Linked DNA regions of Homo sapiens: region 1 is linked to region 2. A link means that fine-mapping ties the variant in region 2 to the expression of a gene that starts in the linked region. Tissue or cell type: thyroid. Region 2 holds a variant in brackets; the other region holds the start of a gene. All regions are shown on one strand. Distances are between the middles of the regions.

Region 1 (2,675 bases), 22 kb before region 2:
TTGGACTGAGTTCCTGCCACTGTCTCCAAGGGACAGGAAGGAAACACACCGGGGGTGCCGTGTGACTGAGCCCTCTGTGTGCCAGGGAGGGATGGCACCTGGACCACCTTACAAACCTCCCATCCAGAAAGACCCTAATCCCGGAGCTTGGGAGGGTGCGACACTGCCCCGGGACCTCCCTGAGGGATGCAGCCTGGGAGGCATGCAGGGCGCAGAGAGGGGGTGGTGGGGCTGCTCTCTCCTCAGCCCACAGCCCTCAGCCTAGGGCCGCCAAACCTGTCCCACCCTTTACCCATTAGGTGAACACACCCCAGGACCCAGCAGCCTGGATCCCCTGCATATGCCTGGACACGCACCCAGACACAGCGTACACCCTGCGCACAACACACACACCGCGCGCAGGTCCAGCCGCGGCTCCAGCCCGACCAATCGCGCCCACGATCTGCTCCTCCCGCGGACGCGCAGGGGCTGAGTCCGACACGCGCCGCGGCAGAGACGGCCGATCGCGACCGCGCGCCTCGCTCCCCTCCCCCACCTCCCCGGCCCCGCGGGCGGCGCCGGCTGTGATCTCATCCCCTGAATTATCGATCGGGCTCCGGGCAGCCTCGCCCCTCCCTCCCTCCCCACCTGCCAGCGCGTCCCGGCCCCTCCCTTTGTTCCCGGCAATCAGCCCTGCTTGGGGCGGGGCAGGTGCAGGGGAGCTCCAGCCAAGTCGGGCCAGGAGGCTGGGTCCCGGGGTGACAGTGACACCCCGTTTTCTGGTGCAGAAGGAACCGACCCTTGAGGCCAGGGAAGGTGCGGCCGGTCTCGGAGAGGTTGAGGCTGGGGATGGAGCGACCGGCCTGGGAGGCTGAGGCCCAGAGCTCAGATGAGCTGGTGCGGGACTGGGCTCCCCAGAAGTGAGGGAAGAAGGGCCGCGACCCTCCAGCCCGCTCCCCTGAGTTACAGCCGGAGAAACTGAGGCCGGGACAGGCCGCAGAGCAGGGGCCCGGCTCCGCTCCTAGCCCCGCCCCCCCCCCCCACCCCCGAGCCGGCACTCCTGGGTTTGAGCTTCGTCTGTGAGCCCTCGGCCGCGCCCCTTCCCCTCCCCGCGCCTCAGTTTCCCCACTAAGAAATAGGGGTGACCCTAAGGTACCTTCTAGCTGCAACAACGGAGAGGGAGGGGCTGACCTTAGGGTCTGGGGTTCTCTTTTCCCTGGCCGCGCCTCCCGGGGCCTCAGTTTCCCCACTAGGAAATAGGGGAAAGAAGGGATGTGGAATTTCTAAGCTTCTCCAGCTCGGTCCTTCTGCGAACTTGGGCGGCGGGCGGGGGTGGGGGGCGCAGCGGGGAGGGTCGCTGACGGGGTTCTGGGTTCAAAGCCCCGTCCCGCCTTGGCTGCGGGTTCCAGGCCAGCGCCCGGTGTCCTCGGAGGGCCTCAGTTTCCCCAGCCTCGCGGCCAGGCTCCGGGACGAGGAGGGCCGGGGTCCCAGGGGCGCAGCCCCCCGCGGCTGCGCGCTGGGCCGGGCGGATGACATCACCGGGCCGGGGGGCGGGAGGGAGCGGGCGGAGCGGGAGGGCTTCCTCCGCGCCAGGCGCAGCGCCCGGTCGGGCTCCGTCGGGCGGCCGCGGCCATGACGCAGGGTCCGGGCGGGCGCGCGCCCCCGGCGCCCCCCGCGCCCCCCGAGCCCGAGGCGCCCACCACCTTCTGCGCGTTGCTGCCCCGAATGCCGCAGTGGAAGTTCGCGGCCCCGGGCGGCTTCCTGGGCCGCGGCCCGGCGGCGGCGCGGGCGGCTGGGGCCTCGGGGGGCGCGGACCCCCAACCCGAGCCGGCGGGCCCGGGGGGCGTCCCGGCGCTGGCGGCCGCCGTCCTGGGCGCCTGCGAGCCCCGCTGCGCCGCGCCCTGTCCCCTGCCCGCGCTCAGCCGCTGTCGGGGCGCGGGGTCGCGGGGGTCGCGGGGCGGGCGGGGGGCGGCGGGGTCCGGGGACGCCGCCGCCGCCGCCGAGTGGATCCGGAAGGGCAGCTTCATCCACAAACCCGCGCACGGCTGGCTACACCCCGACGCCAGGGTCCTGGGGCCCGGGGTCTCCTACGTCGTGCGGGTGAGTCCCCCCCACCCCCCCCGGGAGCCCGTTCGCGGCGGCCTCCCCTCCCCCACCCTCTCCTCCGGGACCCCCGGACCCCGCGAGCCAGGTGTCCCCTCCCCATCCTTCCTGCTCTCCCGCCACCCCGGACCCCCATCCCCGGCCGGCGGCCGGCGGCTGCCCCCACCCGGAGGCGCTGGGGTCCGGGTTCCCACGGCGTCACGTGGGGAGGGGCGGGGAGAGGGCGGCGGGGGAGGGGCGCGCATGCGCAGGTGCACCGCCCCCCACTCGGACTGGGCGGGCGAGGCCGAGAGCGGCGAGCGGCCGGGGCGTCTCTGCCACCGGAGCCCCCCGGACAGCTGTTCACGAATGACAGACGGGGCCCGAGACGCTGGCCTGCGGTGGGGGTGCGGGAAGGGGTGTTTGGAAAGGGGCTGGCGCCCGGACAGACCCCAGGATTCCAGATGGGAGGCAGCAGGGACTTCCAGGGCGGCCAAGGAAGCGGCCTTTGTTTATTTACCTTGGGTCTTATGATAAATGAACCTTTTCAAACACACGGGGAAGTCGGGCGCCTGGACACAGCACGCCTCCACCTAGGAGGGTAACCTTCCCCT
Region 2 (2,675 bases):
AACATTCTCATTACCCCATCAAAACACCCCGTCCCCATCACAGCCACTCCCCGTCCCCTCCCCAGCCCCGGCACCCACGCATCCCCTCCCTGTCTCTGTGGATCGGCCTGTCCTGGACATTTCATAGCAATGGGATCACACGCTGCGTGGCCTCGTGTGTCTGGCGTCTCTCACTGAGCATGGCGTTCCCGAGGTGTGTCCGCGCTGTGGCCTGGGTCAGAGCCTTGCTCCTTTTTTTTTTTTTTTTTTGAGATGGAGTCTCACTCTGTTGCCCAGGCTGGAGTGCAGTGACACCGTGTCGGCTCACTGCAACCTCTGTCTCCTGGGTTCAAGCATTTCTCTTGCCTCAGCCTCCCCAGTAGCTGGGACTACAGGCGCCCACCACCACACCCAGCTAGTTTTTATGTTTTTAGTAGAGACGGGGTTTCTCCATGTTGGTCAGACCGGTCTCGAACCCCTGACCTCAGGTGATCCGCCCGTCTCAGCCTCCCCAAGTGTTGGGATGACAGGTGGGGGCCGCCGCGCCTGCATGCATTTGTTTGTGTCAGGCCCACAGTGCTAGGATGACAGGCAGGAGCCGCTGCATCTGGCCAATTTTTAACCTTTTGAGGAGCCCCCAGGCTGTTTTCCACAGTGGCCGTGCTGTGAAAATTCCCACATGCCCTGGGTGGGGGATCTGGTTTCTCCACGTGACGCCGACATTTCCGGGGCCCCTTCAGGACCCTGTAGACTTCTAACCTCTCCTGGGGACCAGTGGTCTGAGGCGCTCTTGTTTGGGGTCAGCTCCTGCCACCACTCAGGCTGCAGACAGGATCTCGACACGGACCCCGCGTCAGGCTCAGGGCCTCCTGCTCGCTGCTCCAACCCCCACATCTGATGCCGAGCCTTCCTTGTGGGCCGAGGCCAGGGACACACTGGTCCCTGGGAAAGAGGGTGGTAGAGGGGCCAGAGCTGGGGGCCGGGCCTCTGCCGGATGCAAGGACGCACGTGGAGTGGGCTGGTGCCCAAGCTGCACCTGTCCTGTGGGGCACTCCTCCCCCAGGTTCCCCAGCCCCCTCCCTGCCCACTTTAGGCCCCCTGATCCTCTCCCACCCCTCCCTCTCTGCCTTCCTCTCCCCTCTCTCTCGCCCTTCTCTGAGCTCCTGCCCCCTCCCCAGACCCCCGCCCTCTCTGACCCCTTCCTCCCCAGCTCCCTCCATGGCCACCCCCACCACACTCT[C/T]TAAGCCCCCTCCTCCCAACCCCAGGGAAGCCATCAACCGGCTCCATGAGGCCGTGCCTGGCGTCCGGGGATCCTGGAAGAAAAAGGTGAGTGAGGCTTGTGGTCTCTCGTGGGGCTGGTGGGGCAGTCGGGGGCTGTGGGGACGCTGCGGCCATCCTGGGAGCCCCTCGACAGCCCCCACCCACAGCCGCCCTCGCTGTGCTCCGCCCCCAACTCAGGCCCCCAACAAGGCCCTGGCGTCCGTCCTGGGCAAGAGCAACCTTCGCTTTGCCGGCATGAGCATCTCCATCCACATCTCCACTGATGGCCTCAGCCTCTCCGTGCCTGCCACGCGCCAGGTGGGTCTGCCCTCTTCGCCTGGCGTCCCCAGACCCCCAGAGGGGCCAGGAGTCCTAGGAGGCAAAGCCAGGTGGGGTGCTGGGGGCGGGCAGCAGGTGGCGTTTATCCAGAAAGACGAGCCGAGGCCCCGCTGAGCAGGAGCTGGGGGTGCAGCCACTGCCCTCACGGGGCTCAGCTCAGGGGCTCCCACCTGGGCGAGCCGTCCTGATACAGGGGCGCTCCTGGCATGGAGTGGGTGGGGGCAGGGACGCTGCTCAGCACCCTGCAGGGGCCAGGACGCCCCACCCCAGAGAGTGGTCCGTCCCAACATCCACAGTGCCTGGGGAGGGGCGGGGATAAACCCTGGCTATCAGTCCTCAAGTGGAAACAAACAACAAAAGTATAATTGCAGACCAGGCTCGGGCTTGGTTGCTCACGCCTGTAACCCCAGCACTGTGAGGCCGGGCTCAGTGGCTCACGCCTGTAACCCCAGCACTTTGGGAGGCTGAGGGGTGGGCAGATCACTTGAGGTCAGGAGTTCGAGACCAGCCTGGCCAACATGGCTGACTCTACAAAAAATACAAAGATTAGCCGGGTGTGGTGGTGGGCGCCTGTAATCCCAGCTACTTGGGAGGCTGAGGCAGGAGAATCGCTTGAACCTGGGAGTGGAGGTTGCAGTGAGCCAAGATTGCACTACTGCACTCCAGCCTGGGCAACAGAGTGAGACTCTGTCTCAAAAAACCAAAAAACAAAAAACTATAATTGCAGAAATAGAGGAAATAACAGATTTTAGGAAGCATTGTGAGGCCAGGTGAGGGGTGTCCTGAGCATGTGCTGGGCTCTGGGTGCTAGAAGAGACTTCCTGGAGGGCTCTGGGAGGTGGTGAGGAGGGGAATCTCAGGTGTGGCTGAAAGAGGAGGCATCGCCTTGTCGGAGAAGTTAGCATGGATCATCGTGAGGAGTTTGGGGTGAGACAGCATCTCTGAGCTGGTGTGGTGGCAGCAGGTGGCGGTGAGGGGCAGCTGGGGCTCCAGGGAGGAGGCTAGAGAAGGATGGAGCTGGCGGGGGGGTGACTGAGGGCCATTTCCACGCAATTTCCATCTCTGCCCCCACCCTGCGAGGCATGGACCCCTGACCA

Evidence for each region. PIP is the estimated chance that this variant, and not a neighbour inherited with it, causes the effect.
Region 1: it holds the start of SHC2, and the variant in region 2 is fine-mapped to the expression of SHC2 in thyroid (GTEx, PIP above 0.99). The same link has a PIP of 0.9 or more in atrial appendage, breast, esophagus mucosa, esophagus muscle, hypothalamus and prostate.

The regions. Positions count from the first base shown.
Region 1 is chr19:459,933-462,607 of GRCh38, reverse strand. It overlaps SHC2 (SHC adaptor protein 2), which reads left to right and starts at 1,575. Exons shown (of 13, transcript NM_012435.3): 1 at 1,575-2,079. The coding sequence starts at 1,612.
Region 2 is chr19:437,600-440,274 of GRCh38, reverse strand. SHC2 (SHC adaptor protein 2) reads left to right here. Exons shown (of 13, transcript NM_012435.3): 3 at 1,245-1,305; 4 at 1,438-1,557. Among named protein-coding and RNA genes, the nearest start is that of SHC2, 22 kb to the left of the region's middle. The variant C/T (reference allele first, on the strand shown) is at 1,220.